Regions from separate parts of the Homo sapiens genome. Here region 2 is linked to region 1. The links come from fine-mapping of genetic effects on plasma protein levels. A gene starts in region 1. The other region holds a variant in brackets. All regions are shown on one strand. Distances are between the middles of the regions. Region 1 holds the start of CHI3L1 (chitinase 3 like 1). Region 2 has its middle 14 kb from the start of CHI3L1.

Region 1 (8,440 bases):
AGAGACGGGGTTTCACCGTGTTAGCCAGGATGGTCTTGATCTCCTGACCTCGTGATCCGCCTGTCTCGGCCTCCCAAAGTGCTGGAATTACAGGCTTGAGCCACCGCGCCCGGCCTTAAATAAAGTTTTATTGGAACACAGTCATGCTCCTTGGGTCAGTATTCTCACGGCTGCTTTCCTGCTACAAGGGCCATGTTGAGTAGTTGCATAGAGAGTGAGAGCAGCTGATCAGAAAGCATACAATTTTATAGAAGAAAGTTTGGTCTACCTAACCCAAGACCAACAAAACAAAAATGAATTACCTAGGACTAAGTGAAATAAGTGTTGGTTTCATTATGATCGATATTATATTTTAATTAATATCAGAAAAAAATCTGCTTACTCTATCTCTCATTTTCAATTTAACATATTATACCTACACATACTGGAGTAAGGCACTCTTTTTAAAAAGATTTTAATAATATATTTTATTTGACCCAATATACCCACAATATTAACATTTCAACATGTAGTCAATCTATAAATTATTAATGAGATAGCTAACCTTTTTTTTTTCCAACCTATGTCTTCAAATCCAGTGTTGGTTTTTATACGTACAGCACATGGGCGCACTCCTTAAATGTCACTTAGTCCCACTTGAACTTTCAAATTTCAAAAGGAAAAAAAATCCCATGGGAAATCTTAATATAGATTATAAACTAATATATCATCAGGACAATTTTAAAAGAAGAAAAAAACCCTGCATTTCCTGGCAGGCTAGGAATATTAACAAACATGGCAATCTTAAAGAAAATAGCACTGATATAATACTTCACACATAAAAGCAATTTCTTCCTAGCCCTAAGGGCTTTACAAAGCCTCCGGACAGAAGTTCACTGTACAGCCTGATCAGATTATAATGACCTGTATTGATCGGACTTGTCTACAGAACAGTACTCATAACTCCCGCAGCCCTTGTAACAATCTTGTGTTTAATGTTGGGATGTCTTAGGCCTCAGAAGCAGGCCTTAGACAATAAAAATATACTCTAACCTTTCCCCTTCTCTGGTCATAAAGAAATCCCCTGACCTACCTTGTCGGATTGTAGGTCATAAGACCCCTGTTTCAAAAGAGAGTCTTGCCCAGTTCCCTGAAAGAAGGAATGCTGCATAGAGGCCAATAAGAATCTGAACAGACAGCCCTTGCTGGGTTTCCCTATTGCGTCTATTAGTATTAGACCACACCCTTCTTGTCCAATCACATTTCTACATGGTTGTCAATCATGACTACCCAGTGAAGTCTCCATAAAGGCCCACGATGACTGGGTACAGAGCACTTCCAGGTAGCTGAGCATGTGGAGGTTCCTGGAGAGCGGCACCCCCAAGGAGGGCATGGACGCTCCAAGCCCCTTCCCCATACCTCGCCCTGTGTATCTCAGCATCTGTGTACTTTGTAATATCTTTTATAATGCACCGGTAAATGTGTTTCCCTGAGTTCTGTGAACCTCTCTAACAAATTAAACCTAAAGAGGTGAATGTGGGAACCCCAACTTGAAGCTGGTCAGTCAAAAGTTCCAGAGGCCCAGACTTGTGGTTGATGCCTGAAGGGGCGGCAGTCTTGTAGGAATGAGCCCTCAACCTGTGGGATCTGATGCTCTCTGCAGGCCGAGAGCATCAGAATTGAACTGGAGGACACCCAGCTGGTGTCCATTGCAAATGCTTGCTTGGTGATGGGGAGAGACCCACACATTTGGTGGCAGAAGTCTCCTGTGTTGATGGTGGTCATTGTGTTGAGTGAGAGAACAGAACAAGCACAGTTTATGTTTTCTCCTCTTACCCATGCTTTTACAAGTTCCTTTACTTTTTATGATCAAATATCCTATGTTATACATTTGAGGGGGAAAATTGGAACCAAATTAATATAGCTTATTCACTTCTAGATAGAATGAATGTTTATGATCATGTTATTTATATAGATCCAATGAGAATCTGTCCTTTTTCTTACCAGAAAATAATTGGATACTGACCATGCCAAAATTCCATTTAATTAGGTATGTGTTAAAGAAAAAAATTATCCAATGCCACTTGTTGAAGTATGTAAGGATGTCTTTATCCAAGATCATTATGACAGGTACAGGAACCAGGGCAATGGGGTCTTGCAGTTGGGGGGAGAGATTGGGCTCAACTCTAAATACAGCATGGGCAAGTGGAAATCAGTAGCTAAGGACCAGGGGGTCTGTAGACAGAAGTTACTAAGAGGAAACAGGAGTAAGGGGGATTCTGGCTAAACAGACTTAACAGGATTCTTGCTGCAGACAGGCCAGGGTGGTCAGACATCCCCTGGGGCATGATAAAGGACAAGGAACCTGGTCAGATGTCAAGGTATTCAGATGTTGAGGGTAGGGGGTTCTTGCTAAATTGACTTAGCAGGGCTCTTTGCTAAAACTGGATTTTACAAGGAAGTGCACAGATGGGCCTAGGAGAAGATTCAGAAGCCCGCCTGAAATTTGGCCAAGCAAAGAATTTTTGTTATATGATAAGCCACTATTAAGGAATAAAGACTACATTTTACATGTGGAAATGACACCTATGAAGTCCTCTAGAAAACTCTGGTATGGCTTTAGAACTGATGACATTGCAGCCTTAGAGGTAGTAAAATAAATAAATAAATAAATAAATAAATAAATAAATAAAACCTACATTTCCTGGCAGTCTAGGAATATTAACACATATGGGAATCTTAGAGAAAATGGTGCTGATATAATACTTCACACATAAAAGTAATTTCTTCCCAGCCCTAGGGGCTTTACAAAGCCTCCAGACAGAAGCTCACTGTAAAGCATCACTATCATGTGGCTCTGGTTTCGCTAGCCATACAAAAAGAAAGTATTTATTTCATCAACACCTCCTGTTATGTCAATAGAAATAAATTTTGGTCAAATAAAACAAAATATCAATTTGATGATGCTGCATCAGGAAGTTATTAAGCAACATATACGGTTCAACCCATGCCTCAATGGCAAGGACTTGCCCACAAGGAAGGAAAATCCGTAGACGCAAAGCCCAACTCTTCACTCTACTGGCTTCATTCATGACCAAGTACCACTGCGGGGTGGGGATGGGAATAATTTGCATCTGGAGATAAGCCAAGAATAATAGGTTATCCTGAGTGGTTTAAGACACCAAAATAATAAGCCTTGGCTATTTCCCATAAATTTGGATTCCCAGCTGGGTGTGGTTGCACACGCCATTGATCCCAACACTTTGGGAGGCTGAGGCAGGAGGATGGCTTGAGCCCAGAAGGTCGAAGCTGCAGTGAGCCCAGATCACGCCACTGCACTCCAGCCTGGGTGACAGAGTGAGACTCTGTCTCAAAAAGAAAAAAAATTCCCCGAAAAAAACAATTTCATCCCTGATTTTTGCTATGCTGATAAGTGAAGATGTGTTGTAAAAATGATGCTGATCTCCACCAAACGTGATAACCTTGGGTCATTTTTTTTTCCCCTTCAAATACTTGTTGCATTTTGCATTTGACGAGCCAGCCATTCTGAAATCTGACTCGCTTCCGCTTTTCACAAGCAACTGTTTTCTTCTCTAAGTGTTTCTGCCTCTGAGTCTTCGACAGCTTCTACTGTGCGCCAGCACCACCACCGAGCTGAGGATTTGGAGATGATTTGAATTCCTGCCTGGCAGAAGTCCACCCTCTGGAGGAAGAGACTACTTGTAAAAGAGAGAATTCTCCTCAAGCATTTGGTGGGGCATCAACACCACCTCTGTTTGCTCTGACACGCCATGCAAAATGAAGGAATCCTCAAAACCACTGTGCCCAAGGGGCCAGCCCAGGCTCCCAGGAGCTTGTTTTCTGAATGGTGGTAATGTCCACCCTCTGGCTCCTGATCCAGACTCATCTTGTGCCTCCCTCGAGCTCCCTCCTGCTAATTCCATGCCTCAACCACTCTTGAATTCTTCTGGTTCCTGAACATAACAACCTCTTCCTGCTCCAGGTTTTTGCACAATTTTTTTTGTGTGTAGGGGACGGTGGGCAAGGGGCAGACTAACACCTGCCCTTCCTTCGTAATACATTACTTGCTTTTCTTTGTTTAATGTCCATCTTCTTTGCCAGACTGTATGCTTCATGAGGACAGGGACTGCCTCTCTGTTCCCATTCACCTTTCTGTCTCTACTGTCTACCTCAGTGGAAGGCAACTACTCTAGTACACTTACTTAATAAACATTGGTTGAACACTATCAATGTACTGTGGGGCCTAGAAATGTTTGATTAGGGAAATTAAGTCAGGAAGCTTGTTTTGTGGTTTTATGGCACCTCCTGAGTCAGTTCTTCACAGGGTAACAAAAACTATTGAATGAGATGAAATTTTGAGAACATCAGGGTTTAAACTCATAAGAGTGTGAAGTTATGCACCATTTTGAGATCATTTGTTCATTTATTCAACGAGTACTTTACTGAGCATCTACTATGTCTCAAGCACTGGGGATAGATACAAAGGTGGATAAAATGACCCAGCCGTTGCCTTTACTGAGTTTATAGTCTAGTGAGAGAGGCAAACAAAACATCCACTGCCACACACAACATATAAAATTATAACTGAGTCAGGTGTTAAGGAGAGAGGTACAAAGTGCTCTGACAGCCCTATAGCGGGTTTTCTGTCACCTGGAGACTGCCTTTTCTGCAGACAAGGTGACTCCTGAGCTGCAATCTGAAGGATGAGGAAGAATAAAGCAGTCAAAGAAGAGCAGTGTTAGGCTGCAATTCTCCATCCGCAATTCTCCAACCGCAATTCTCCATGGGTTGCCTGCATTTCCTGCACAGCTTATGTGCAGAGGCACTGGCTTCTTTGTTCTAGGCAATCTTTTTAGTGATGTTTGTACAGCAAACAGCCTTGGAAGATAGAAATAGCGTCCCCCCTCCAGACCAAAAGGCAGATTTGTTTACTGTCCAGTAATAAAGATAATGTCTCCCTTATCTTGGGCTGGCCAAGGTGAGGAAGGCTTACTGCTCATCATGAAAGATTTGAGTTCCTTAAACTAGGGATTCCTCTGCTGTGATGTAACTCATTGCATTCATGGCATCTACCTGGGCTCCTCCAACACTGCCCTTGTGAGACCTGAGGGCTAAGGGGAACTGACCCTAACATGAAGTTCATGCTGCTTGCTGTACCATGGATAATAAAGTCCTTTGTCTCTGACCTAGGAGTCTCGTGTCTTCTGCCAACATCCACGAAACTGTAGTTATGTCATTAATTTGCAAGTAGCATAAAATCTCAGATCTTTCATCGTTATTTACAGGCAAGTGGATGTCATATATAAAGGCCCTGTGGCGGGAGTCAGTAGAGCAAATATAAGGATTTAAAAGAAGACATATAAGCATGAGTGGAATATAGGGAGGGTGGGGGTCATGGCCTGAGATAAGGCTGGGAGGTGGTGAGCCTATGAGACCCTTGGCCAATCCTGCTAACACAGGCCTGGGGGTATCTTGGCCATTTGTTGTTACAAAGCTGCCTTCAGGCAGAGCATGTGGAATTAATAAACTGAGCTTGAGGGAGCATAGGACAACAAGGCTTGGGCCAATCTAAGCCTATGAAATAATTTTTAACAAAGGGAGATAGTGAAAATAGGAGGTGTTTTCTTAACATCCTGTGCTCTGTGATGAAAAATTTTGCATCTGCATGCCACTTCATAATATCACTATTAGAAATTAGAAGTCCTCCTCTCAGTGCCCCAAATGAACCAGAAGAAGCTATCATTGACTGTCATTGCTGTCAATCATCTTGGGTACAAAAGGAGGCAGTCATCTTAAAAAGGAAAAGTGATGCCTCTTTAGTATTCACCGAGCGTGATTCTGGACAAGCCACTTTTTGTCCACCTCTCTTACAATGAAGGGAAGGCACTGGCTGAGTTTTAAAGGAAGAGAAAGGGAGAGAGGGAGAGAAGAGGGAGAGAGCAGAGAGACCTCACCGAGAGAGCTGCAAAACCAGCCTGGAAAAATTAGAGTATTACCTAACATTAGTGAAAAATAAAGGTACTTTCTTGAGAAGCCCTTGGACCCATTCTGCCTCTTGGAGTTCTGAACTTTTCACTCACTGCCTATTAATTAATGTTAAGCCTGCAAAGAATGGAGTTGTCCTGGATATTTGGCCAAAAAAAAAATGTATCCACAAACAGGGACGTAATCAGGCAGGGAGCCTCGTTAAGAAGTTTTGTTCTTGTCCTAGGAGTGATGAGAGATCACTGAAGGATTTAGAGAGGGGCTGTATCATCAGGCTTGGGTTCCAAAGCCTCACTGAGAGAGTTGGGGAGCTGACTGATGTCAGATGCTCGTGCAGCCGCCCCGTAGGGCCTGTATTTCCTCCATGGTGCCTCACTGCAGCACCGAGCTTGCAAAAGATCCTCTCTCTTTATGGGAATTTCAAAACAGAAGCAAAATAGCACCGGGGCTTAAAGCATTCTTGGGAATTTCCCTGTCTTTCCCTCTAAATAATCAGCATGTAAATTGCAAAAAAAAAAAAAAAAAAAAAAAAAAAGACACGGGCCCAAAAGGGAGCGCTCAGTTTCAGGCTCTTTGCTTTCCTTCCTCCCGAGGCTCTCTGGCCCTTACCCAGCCTGAAGACAGAAAGTGTGAGGGGGAGGGTAGGAAGGTAGGTCAAGCAGGGCAATGCTGAGCCTGGGAAGAAAACAACAGCCTTGTTTAGGGCACTGTGGCTTACGTAACTAAATTGTGCCCAGTTTCCACCTGGCCAGGGGCCTGGAGTGAATGCTGAAGATGCAAAGGTAGAGGCTGCCAGAAAAGCCAGGAAATTGCTGGCAAGAAAGGCCAGTGGTGGGGTGCAGGAGTGGGAGGAAGGCTGGGAAATGCGGCTGAGTCACATCTCCAGAAGCCCCCCATCATCACCCTAGTGGCTCTTCTGCTGGCAGGTGCCTCATGAAGACCTGACCCAAAGTTTTCAAAACTCTGCGGTTTCTCAACCCTCCTCTGGTAATCCATAGTACTCCCCCGCCTCCACTTGCCAGCCTCGTGATTCCTTCATTGACACATAGCTCAGTTCCCATAAAAGGGCTGGTTTGCCGCGTCGGGGAGTGGAGTGGGACAGGTATATAAAGGAAGTACAGGGCCTGGGGAAGAGGCCCTGTCTAGGTAGCTGGCACCAGGAGCCGTGGGCAAGGGAAGAGGCCACACCCTGCCCTGCTCTGCTGCAGCCAGAATGGGTGTGAAGGCGTCTCAAACAGGTATCTGGGCTAGCCAAGGTTAATCCATCAGAGTTGTGGGTTTTCAGGCCCAGACAGCCCGCAGAGCCATCTGCCTGCTGGGTGAGGGACTAAGGGAGTGGGCAGAGGGGGAGGAGAAGCAGAGCCAGGGGAGGGACTGAGGCTGCAACCAGGAGGTGGGGGTGGGGGAGGTGGGTCTCAGTTGCTTGGGGGAGGGAGCAGGGCGGAAGGGCAGGATGCACTTGCAGGGGTCTCATCCTGGATTTCTCTTCAGGCTTTGTGGTCCTGGTGCTGCTCCAGTGCTGTGAGTAATCCCTCCACCTCCACTTTTAAGTCCAGAGGCGTGGCGAGGGCACAGGGCAGGTGTGGAGGAGGTCTTAGCTCCAAGGGAACACTTTGCCAGGTTCTTCTGTGCTTCCAATGACTTCGAAATAGTCACGTTTGCTAAACTGGAGTGAGGAGTATATGGATGTTTATTTTGCTATACTCTTTGGTATATGTGAAAATTCTCAAAATAAGAAACTTTAAAAGGTCCTGGTTCAGTGAAGGCTTTGACTAACAGCCCCTGGGAGCCGCTAGTACAGTTGCCCAGTAGCTGCTTGGATGAGTGATGCCCACATTGTTTGCAGCAGGAGAAACAGAATTAGAGGCGAGGAAGGATTTCCTGGTCCATTGTGATATTGTGCCCCAGCCTGGGGGACATGCCGAGGGAGCACAGGACTGCCATTCCGGGTGGGTTACAAGTTAGAGGCACTCTCACCAGGAGGCAGAGAAAGGTGGGCCAGAGTCCCTCATGGATGAAGGACCTCACTGCAGGTCACTAAAGGTGCCAGCCTGAAAGCCAGGGCCATCTGTGACACAGGCTATCTTGGGCCTTCCCCTCCCACAAAGCCACTGCTTCCAGGAAGCCTGCTGTGCTGGCACCAAGTCCCATTTCATCCTTATTCCCCAGCTCCTACCCTTCCCCCACACAGTGCCTGTAGCGTATTCATCCCCTGCATTGGATCTTTTCTAAGCATTTTCAGAATAGGCCTTATTTTCACCAGTCAGGGAACTCCCCAGAGGCAGGGGGACCTGAACCAGCTCCTTTCATTTAAGAATTCTGACTTTGCTCACAATCTGCACCCCACTCCTCCCTACCCAACCCCACACCCCATTGGTGCTCAGCTCTGGGCTCAGCCTGAGGTCTCTTGCCGAATCCTGGCCCGGGCCCCATCCCAGACTTCTCCTTCAGGCTC
Region 2 (10,679 bases), 11 kb before region 1:
TTCGACATCTGGGACCCCTAAAGTCAGAGTACAGAAGGAATGTCACCCCACCATCTTCCTACTGCCATCGCCTGGACGCAAATGTGACTTGGTATGGAGGGAAGATCAAGAGGTCTTTGCCCCCTGGACAAGTCACTTCTCATCCCAAGTCCTCTGTGTCCCATTGTACAGTCGGCAGGTTGGACTAGATGACCTACTGGCCACAGCTGGCCACTGCCAGCCACTGGGTACCTCTTCTCAGAAAATAAGGAAAGCAAGGGAGGGTCAGAGTCTCCACTTGGCATCAAGCATCACTTCTTCACCCTGATCCCCCATCCAGAAGACTCCTTGCAATATCATCCTGAGCTAAACATGGGGGACTTGCTCTATGGCTTCCTCCTCCTGACACACGTGTATGCATGTGCACGAGCAGACGCACACACACACCCCACCCTTGTGCAACACGCATGCTTGCAGAGGAAACTTGTCCTTTCTTGGCCAAGCACAGGGGCCTGGAACAATGGGAGGGAGGGTGTCTTACATTGCACTTCACACCAGAGCCTGTCCTTACAGATTCCTCAGGATCTCAGTCTGCACTAGCTGACCCCACAGGCCTTCCCTGCCCTTCCACCTTTCGGGTTCCACATCTGCAGCAACCACTGAGCTTCAGCCAGCCAGCGGTGGAGCCAGATGCCCAGGCTGTGCTCCAGAGCATCCCTGCAGTGACTCAGAGGCCACTGACCTTTGAACACATCCAGACCTCCCCTCCCTGCCAGTGGAGAGATCTCCCAGCACACCAGACCCTAAATGCCTTGAGACAATCTCTTTCTAATCCCTTAATCCAGTGGTGGGAGCCATTTTCTATTAAGGGGCAGTGACCTCAGTGGAAAATCATAATCATACAAGGGCCACATCACTGTATAAAATTACTGAAGTTTGATGTGGCTGCTGCTGTTTCTTTTTAATTAGGAAAGATGTATAAAACATTCAGAACACCTGATTTTTAAAGGAAGACAAAACCATGCAAAATAAACATGATCAATATGTTAGAATATGTTTTCCAAATTGAAGGCAGTTGAGATGGTGTGACTTAAAAGAATGTAAAGGAAAGAAAGAGTGAGAAATTGTGGTAGGAAAAGGAGAAAGACTAGAGAAAAATAAGGAAAACGTGAAGGGCAGGAAAGGGCAGGCCAGTGGAAAGGAGAGGGAAAGAGGGTGATGAGGTTAGGAGCAGCAAGGAGGGCTCGTTAGGCCCAGCTGCTGGGTCATTACTTTCTGCTCCATGCTTCTGGTCAACCCTGATCTTGTAAGGCTGGTTTTCAGATTATTACCTGGATTGTAGGCTACCATTTACACAAAGTCATTTGGTAGATGCTCATTTCTATTATACCATTTCATCTTTGCAAGAACTCTAAAAACTAGGCTTGAGAAAAGTAAGACCTAGAAAAGTTGCCCAAGCTCACACACCATAACAATTGGCCAGGACTCCAATTCATCCGCAGATCAAAGCTTCTGCTGTTGATACTATACCATTTGTATTGTCTACCTTGCCATTATCTTCCTATTGAACTGTTGATTATCTTTGTTCATTGCCCCCTTGATCACCATGAGGCAATGAACAAATGATCCAGCTACTCTTTCCTTCTTTCTGTTTTCTGAACCCATTAAACTCGTCCCATCTCTATTCCCCACCTGCCCTGACCTCAAAACTTGGTCTGATCTATTCTTGCTTCCTGGGCTTGGTTTTCCATGCCCAGATCTTCCCATAGCAGCCCAGCTTACCCTTCAGGTCTCCCCTTAAGCATCACTTCTTCAGAGAGTCCTTTCAACCACCTCCCTGTCACTCTCTCACATCACTCCAAATTGTTTATTATCATGGCACTTACTGCTGCGCGGTGTTTTTTGTTTTGTTTTGTTTTTTGTTTGTTTGTTTGTTTGCTGTTGACTATCCGTCTTTCTGAGCTAGAAGAGAAACTCCATGTGACCAGGACTTTATCAGCCTTGTTTGTTACTATATCTCCGGAATCTAATACTACTTCTGGCAAATAGTAGATGCTTAATATGTGTTTGTTGAATGAACGAGTGAATAAATGAACTGCTCTCTATCCCCTTTATAGACTCTGCTCCTAGCTGTTAGTGGTACTTTTTTGTACAGAACCAACAAATCAATCCCTAGGTTGCATTTCCCATATCAATCAGCTCAAATTCTCCTTCTACAATTCTAATCAAAACTCATCCATTCCACAAGCATGTCCAAGCTCTTGGCTGAGACTGTGGATGAAGATAAATGAGATTTGACTCCAGATTCAAGGCCTGAGCTTCTGGAGTTTATAGAGTCTAGAAGAGAGGGGATAAGGCATGCCCACAAAGTATTATAATTCAAGATTAAATGAGTCATAAACAATTAAAAAAGAACAAATTAAATATGTTCAGAGGAAATTTCCTCTGGTTGGATGATCTGTGGGGACCCTAACGTAAAGAAACAACAGAACTGAGATCGAGTTTTGAATGAGGGTTCAGACCTCACTGCAGTCTCAGGCAGTCAGCCATGAGACTCAGAGCCATGACCTCAGATTGAGGGCCAGGGTGTGTCCAGACTGGACCAGGCACGCGAAGACCCGGGAGGCAGGAGGGGATAAGGATGGAGAGAGGCTGAGGCCAAACGGTCCAGGTTTGTGGACTGCACATAGCCATGGGAGAGAGCGAACTGAGTGGGCACCATGACCCAGGCAGCAATGTAAACCAGCAGCCCAGCCGCTGCACTTGCAGCTGACAGGAGGGAAGGGGGTTCGTGCAGGACCCTCACCCACAAACCCAGGGGGTTAACCAAGTTTCTGTCTAAGAAGTTCAGCAGGGCAGATTTCTCTCCTTTCTTAGTAATGTGAAATGTAAGCTGGTCAACAGGCATGATTTCTCAACAGCAGGAAATGAAGCAACTGTTTTGGAGACAGCATCCCTCCCTGATGGAGGGCAAGGCTTCAGGCTGTGGTCATTTTCCTGTCAAGTTAATCCTAGTTGTAGAAAACACATCTCCTGAGAAGGCTGGCCTGTCAGGGAAGGGGTGGAGACCTGGAGGCCTGGGGTAGGAATGGGAATGAGGAATGAGCAGGGCTCCATGTTGTTACTCATGAGCGGTAGGGGCTCTGCTGGAAGAAGATCGGGCAGTGTGGAGAAACTGGAGGCGGACTAGGAGGTGGGGTGGGAGGCTGGCGGCGAGCGGAAGGGAAGGATGGGCAACAAGCTTCAAGGGGACTTGGAGGTCTCAGGGAAGGATGCCAGACCTGGAATAGTTCCCAGCCTCTGCCTCTTTTCTTTTTTATTTTTCGACAGAATCTTGCTCTGTCGCCCAGGCTGCAGTGCAGTGGCGAAATCTCGGCTCACTGCAATCTCTGCCTCCCAGGTTCAAGCGATTCTCCTGCCTCAGCCTCCCAAGTAGCTGGGATTACAGGCACCGACCACCATACCCAGCTAATTTTTGTATTTTTAATAGAGACGGGGTTTCACCATGTTGGCCAGGATGGTCTTGATCTCTTGATGTCGTGATTTGCCTGCCTTGGCCTCCCAAAGTGCCAGGATTACAGGCATGAGCCACCGCGCCTGGCCCTCTGCAACTTTTCTCTCCATCTTTCTGAGGCCCATGGCCCCTCCCAGACTCAGTCATAGCCCTAGCTTCTGGGACCTGGGACCACAGTCATTTCTTCTAGTTCCTTCTCCTGGGCCCATCTTTACCATATTATATTGTAAGTATTGGCTCAACAACTGCCTTCTACATAGACCCTGGGCCCATTGAGGGCAAGGGCCCTGTCCCCCTCCTCTGCTGGCCCTAGCACCTGGCAGACTGGGGCTGAACCTGCAGGGCCTGTGGATGTCGGGCTGAATGATATAGTTGCCGTTGTACCTTCTGGGTCTCTTCCACCACCTGATCTCTAAATGTCAGGATGCCTCAGGGCTCAGGCATGGGCTTCTGCCCTTCTTGCTCTACGTGAACTCATCCGTTCCCATGGCTTTAAATAGCATCTTGACACCAATGACTGTATCCGCAGCCTAGACCTCTCCTCCAAGCTCCAGATGCATGTATCCACCAGCCCGCTTGCTCTCTCTACCCAGATAAGGCATAAACAGTTCTTTAATATGGCTGAGACAGACCCCCTACTCTAAAACTTATCTCCACCCCATGAATTCCTCACATTAAACAATTAGCACAACCTTGTCCACCTTGCTAAAGGTAGGACCCCCTGGGTGGTTCCTGGTCCCTCTATTCCCTCATCCTTTTACATCCAACTCATCTGTAAGTGTGCGGATGTTCCCTCCAAGGAATGTCCATAGTCCACCCTTCTTTCCACCTCCACGTCCCCAGCCCAGGGCAGGCCACCGCATCTCTTGCCTGGACCTCTTTAACAGCTGCTTATGTTCATGCCTCTTCCACTCTTGCCATACCACAAATCTATTCCCTACAGAGCCACTAGAGTGACTTTCCAAAACATAAACTCTATCCTGGACTACCTGCTTAAACATCCAGTGGTGTCCCATTGCACAGAGGACAAAACCCCTCTGTGGTTTCCACAGGCCCCAGGACACAGACCTGCCTCTCTCCCCGGGGCCTCTTGTCTCTCCCCACATCCCCAAACTACTCTAGCCAGCTGGTCAGCTTGCTTGTGCTTTTCTCTTTTTTTTTTTCCAACACACTAAGCTCTTTCTCACCTCCAGGACTTTGCATATGGTGTTCTCTGCCTGGATCATTTTCTCTCTTCTTGAGGTAGCTGACTCCCTCTCATCCCTCAGATTTCTGCTTAAGATCACCTCCTCGGAGAAGCCTCCCTGACTGTCCTAACTAAAGGAGGTTCCACTCCTCACTCTCCCCACCCTAGCCCAGGACTTGGCACCTAATAGGGGCTCAGTAACTCTTTCCTGAAAGAATGAACACATGCTGCCCTTAGTCCCTGGCAGACTCCTGTGAGCTCTTTAGTTTATCCTTCTAAGCCACCAAAGATTCACTCTCCTTTCCGCTTATTTTTACGTTTTCTCAAAACTTTCCTCATAAACACCATATTGTTGAGTTTCTTTCTCTCCCTAAAATAGCTGCAGAACTGGACAAAGACTGGCTATCTGCTTCCTAGCTGTCCCTTTCAGTTTCAGGGTTTATGTGCTAGTCATTGCAGGGGAGCAGTGGGGAGAATGGAAAATTACCAACAAGGAGAAGTGGCAGAATCCAGGGACTGACCGTGTTCTTACACCCGTGGTCCTCAGTCTATAGTTAGCTTCTGACTTCCTTTCTTGGCAAGATCTATACCAGCTATCTAGGACAGTCCCAGTTTCAACTGTTCTGTCCTATTGTCCCACTGTGTTTCATGAATTTTCTTACAATATTGGCTCTCTCTCTTTTTCCTCCCACTCTCCTTTTATCCCATGAGGGCAGCCTTACTTAAACAACCC[T/C]CGCACTCAGTGTTGAAAGAGCTGAATTCAGTTCAAGTCTTGCTCAACCACATAAAATGTGCACGACTTTGGGCAAAGCACTGATCCTCTCTCAGCTTCCGTTTGCTCACCTACTGAGAGGGATAAGGCCAACACCTCCATTCCAGCATTCGGCAGGGCGGGTTGTGACTGGAATAGCATGTGTTGGGCACTTGGCACCCATAGCAAGTCTCCCTTGCCCCTCAGGATGAATAATGGAGTGAATTAGTCTTTCAGCCAAAAGACTCTGGGCTCCAGAGAGTAATGTAATGCTTTACCCAAACAGTGGAAGTGTGGAAGTGATGTGGATGTTGGGGGACTGTTATATTCTCTCGGTTCAGCTGTGGCCTGAGTGATGAGTCAGGTCATGTCTGTAGATAGAGAGCTCTGTCTCCACAAAGAGGAGGTGCCCAGCTCCAATCCCTGGGGAAAGGTTGTATCTTTATTGGAAACCAGAGCTCAGAAGACTAGCCTTAGGGAGATGGAAGAGGGCCCCGACTTGGGAGCAGGGGTGCATCTTTCAACAGGGGTCCCTAAACAGATGGCGCCCTCCGTATGGAATCAGGAGTCGAGCATAGCTTGAACGTCTGACTGTCCAGGACCCACCTCAAAGCGTGCACTTCCCCTGCCTCACCCTCAAGCCTCCCCTGAGTCTTATCTGAATGCCTTGGCTCAGGCTCTGCTTTTCAGGGGGAGGACTGTGCCACCTCCTGGGCCAGAGTGTTAAGGGGTGACCAGTGCCCCTGAGACCACCTTGGCTACAACCTCTCAAGGGAAATGTGCATCTTGGTGAATCCGAGGGACAGGGTAGGGATCATGCAATCCAGCTGCTTCTTTCTCCCCACCAGGGAGGTCTTCATCCAGTGCCAACCTGGGTAGGTCTGCCTCGAGCATGTTTTTATTGAGGAGCTGGCACTTTCTTTCAAATGTCAGGGGCATTGAAGACCACGCAGGTTTCACCTCCTCCAGGCCCTTGCCTAGCAGGAGAAAGGTCACTTTCAGGCATGTCCTCACACTCCCTGCACTCAGGTTTGCCTTGGGCCATGCCTGGTCAAAGGAAGCCTAGAGACTGGGCTCCAGTACAGGCTCTGTATTTAGCAGCCAAGTGACTTGGAAAGGTCACCTGCTCTCTGCTTCCTCATTGTCAATGGAGAAAACAATCTCTGTATTAGTTTTCTGTGGCCGCTATAACTAATTACCACAAATTATAATGGCTTAAGACAGCACATATTTAATGTCTTACAGTTTTTTGAGGTTACAAGCCTAAAATAAGTTTGATAAAGCTAAAATCAAGATGTCCACAGGGCTGTGTTCCTTCTGGAGTCTCCAGAGCAGAATCTATTTCCCTGCCTTTCTAACCTTCTAGAAGCTGCCCGCATCCCTTGGCTCGTGGCTCCTTCCTTCATCTTCAGAGCACATCACTCCTACCTCTGCTGCCCTTGTCACATCCCCTTTTCTGTGTCTGACCCTCCATCATCCGCTCATAAGGACCTCTGTGATTATATTGGGCCCACCCAGATAATCCAAAATAACCTCCCCAACTAAGACTCTTAACTTAGATACATCTTCAAAGTCTCTTTTGCCATGTGTGGTTACATGTTTCCAGGCTCTGGGGTCTAAGACATGGACATCTTTGGGGAGCCATTATTCTCTCTACCACAGCCTCCTTACCACATAAGCTGTTCTCAAATCGCATCCATCTCCAGGCTTCAGGAAGGACCTTCTCATCTCATCGCAGGCCAAAGGGCCCGGTCGCCTAAGGATGAGGCCTGGTCCCCTAAGTACTCCTAAGGATGGAGAGTCTGAAGATAGCTTTATTTGCCTGTTTTCTTTGAAACAGGGTCTTGCTCTCTCACCCAGGCTGGAGTGCAATGGCAAGATCTCAGCTCACTGCAACCTCTGCCTCCTGGGTTCAAGGGGTTCTTCTGCCTCAGTCTCCCAAATAGCTGGGATTACAGGTGCATGCCACCACACCTGAGTCTTTTTAGTAGAGACGGGGTTTCACCATGTTGGCTAGGCTGGTCTCGAACTCCTGACCTCAGGTGATCTGCCTGCCTTGGCCTCCCAAAATGCTGGGATTATAGGCATGAGCCACCACGCCCAGGCTAGTTGCCTGTTTTAATGTTGAAGGCTCTTAAAGGGAGTTATAACTGCTATCTGACCCATCTCCATTCTGGCAAAAGGGATCCATGTAGCTCTGCTGTATGCGTTTTCCAAATTCAGTGTTTAGTGGGGGAGCCACAGGATCATCTCAACTGCAGAGGGTGGAAATCTCATGGGAGAGCCAGAAATGAAGGTGGGGTTGGAGAAGGAGAACCGGCCTCCTCAGAGCATCTGCTCCGTGCCAGACCCTCACATGCATACCTCACTGAATTCTTACCACAATCCTGTGAGGAGCTGAGGCTCAAGGGGGCTGAGTCATGCTAAAAAGGTCAGCAAGTGGCAGAGCTGAATGGGGGTTGGGGACTTTTTCTGATTCTACCACAGCACCACGTGGGGTTGGGGTCACCTGGGCTCTGGCTTTGTACATTGCCAGTGTTTCTTTTCTCCTGGCATCAAAAACAACTCCAAGGAGAGGATGGTTGTTTATGGTGAACAGGGCTATTTAGAGAGGTTAGAGGTGTACATTTGTAGATGACATTTAGAATGTATGGAGAAGGAGTGTGTGTGTGTGTGTGTGTGTGTGTGTGTTTCACTAACCTCCACTTACTTCTGGATACTGAAGGGAGAGGAGAAGGAGGATCATCCAGTGGATTGGAGTTTAAGATTGTCAACAAGACATCACTAAGAACACCTTTTGCATGCCCTATGGATAAGTGCAAAGCATCCCTCAAAACAGTGGTTTCAAATCACAATCACCATCCAGAGAGATGTGTTAGAGACCTGGGTCCTTGGGTGTGAGAGATCTGTTGAGAGAGTCAGGCCCTTACCCAAGCATGGCTATGGGGAAGTCCAGCAGAAAGAGACACAAACCCTGCCCTCAGGAGGCACCAGATCTGAAAAGAAAAGGAGACGAGAGCCCCTACCTTCAGGGAGATCCTAAAGTGTGTGGCAGATGGAAAAGAGATAGTCCTGCCTTCAGGGAGCTTCCAGTCTGAGAGGTAAGATGAGACACATGGGCACTAAAACACCACCATAGACACAGGTGTTCCCCAAGCTCACAGACCCAGTGGTTGTAAGAACACAGTCAGAGGATAGAGCAATTAGATGTGAGCCTGTGAAAGAGGGAAGGTTCCAGAAGATGAGTCTGGAATAGAAAGAGGAATCACTGAAGTGAGGAGTGGGCACCAGAATGGGGAGTACACTGTGAAGGCAGAAGCAAGCCGGTCAATCCCTGGGATGGGGGACACCCAGATCGGCTTGAGTGGCCATCACTTCTTTAACAAGATGGGCCAAAACCAGGGTCCAGAAAATAAATACACACATGGCTGCTCCAGGCACCTTCAGAGGGGTGAAGACTGCTGGCCCCGACTTCTAGAGTGGTTCCTTACCCTGCTTTCACTCCCAGTCCCCTGCCCATGGGTGTCGTGTGCCAGAAAGCACAGACCCTGGGAGCCACTGCTCCCTTACAGGAGAGGCCGCCTGAACACAGCTGTCCCACATCCAGGCAGAAATGGTGCACAGCGCCACATTCCACCCTGTCTGCTAACCAGGAAACTGATTTCAGGCTGGCTAAGGGGACCCTTGTACATCACTTTTCTATTATCTTCATGTGGCTTCTCCAGAGAGACCAGGTTTTCATGGGCCTATGAGGGACTGTCAACTTCAGTTCAGTTTAGTTTAACAAATGTGTGTTGAGCATTGCTGACACTCTGCCCTGTTTCCAACATGACTAAGCACTTCACATACCATGGCAGGAAAAAAAAACCAACAGGGTCGCCCTGACTGGTTCTGGTCCCCAAAATAAGCCTTGACTATTTCCCAGAAACTTGGCCTTCCTAAGAAAAACCATTTGATCCCTGACTTTTGCTCTGCTGAAGTCTGAGGATACGCTGTGACTCTGATGACCATGTGAGAAAGTTGCTGTTTTCCACCATGAAGAAATGGTACCAATGTAAACACGGTCATCTAGGCCATTTGGGACTTTTTCCTTTAAACATTTGTGCTTTGTATTTGATGAGCCAGTTTTGTTTGAAAGCTTACTCCCTTCCACTCTTTGCAACTGAAAGTTTGTTTACTTCTCTCTCTCTCTTTTTTTTTTTTTTTGTAGCTAACAATAATTTATTGTATATTTCAAAATAGCTAGAAGAGTTGATTTGAAGTGTTCATTATTTTCTTCTCTTTTCTAAATGTATTAGTCTCTGGTCCTCCTTTGACAGCTTATTCCTGGAGTTTCTACAAAGCTATTGGCTGCCTGGCTCCTACCAAGGGAGCAGGCAGACAGGTAGAGCTCACAGTGTACCTTACCCCTTGGATCTGATCTGCAGCCCACCCTCCTCTGGCTCCTCTGAAATGTCTTCTGTGCGACAATAGAGCTAAATTGATTCTTGCCAAGTCTGTTTCTGGTTCTGGTTCTGATGGTGCATGGCCAATTGTGTCCACATTGGTAGCAGCAGGAGTGGAATCTAGGTTTGATGCTGCTATGGCCTGACCATGACATGATTTCTGTCAGGTGCAGCAGACAGGGTTTCTGGAATCTGACTCCCCTCGTAGTATTTTCTGGTGAATGTGTTTGTCCAAGGATTTTGAGATTTCTTGGAGTTTGAGAATACAAGGTTGAAGAAGTTGTTTGGAGTCTCTGTGACTTTTGGAATTCTCTGTGGTATGTGTTTCATGTTGGTGTCAGTAGGTTCTTTTCATTCCAAGCTCAGAGCTTCCTTCCTCAACCCTAAGTTCTGGCTTTTAAAGTTATTATGGTCCAAATAGCTATTGATAGCTACAAAGGTAAAATTCCTATAGCTAAGATAAAAGGAAAATCAGCTTTCATTAATTTCTTTAAATAACTAAATGATGCTGGTTGCAGTGGCTCACGCCTGTAATCCCAGCACTTTAGGAGGCTGAGGCAGGAGGATCGCTTGAGCTCAGGAGTTCAAGACTAGTCTGGGTAACATAGTGAGATCCTCTCTCTACAAAAAAATGTTTTAAAAATTATCCAGGCAGGGGGCTGTGCATCTGTAATCCCAGCCAGTCAGGAGGCTGAGTTGAGAGGATCGCTTGAGCCTGGGAGGTTGAGGGTGCTGTGAACGGTGATTGTGTCACTGCACTCCGGCCAGGCATCAGAATGAGACCCTGTCTCAAAAATTAATTAG

What was found. PIP is the posterior inclusion probability: the model's chance that the variant is causal. The UK Biobank Pharma Proteomics Project read protein levels with antibody pairs (Olink). The fine-mapping took linkage between variants from a reference panel, not from the people measured, so its PIPs are less certain.
Region 2: its variant is fine-mapped to the plasma level of the CHI3L1 protein (UK Biobank, PIP above 0.99).

What each region holds. Positions count from the first base shown.
Region 1 is chr1:203,185,382-203,193,821 of GRCh38, reverse strand. CHI3L1 (chitinase 3 like 1) reads left to right here and starts at 7,118. Exons shown (of 10, transcript NM_001276.4): 1 at 7,118-7,223; 2 at 7,477-7,506; 3 at 8,437-8,440. The coding sequence starts at 7,199.
Region 2 is chr1:203,194,997-203,205,675 of GRCh38, reverse strand. No RefSeq gene overlaps it. Among named protein-coding and RNA genes, the nearest start is that of CHI3L1, 14 kb to the right of the region's middle. The variant T/C (reference allele first, on the strand shown) is at 5,413.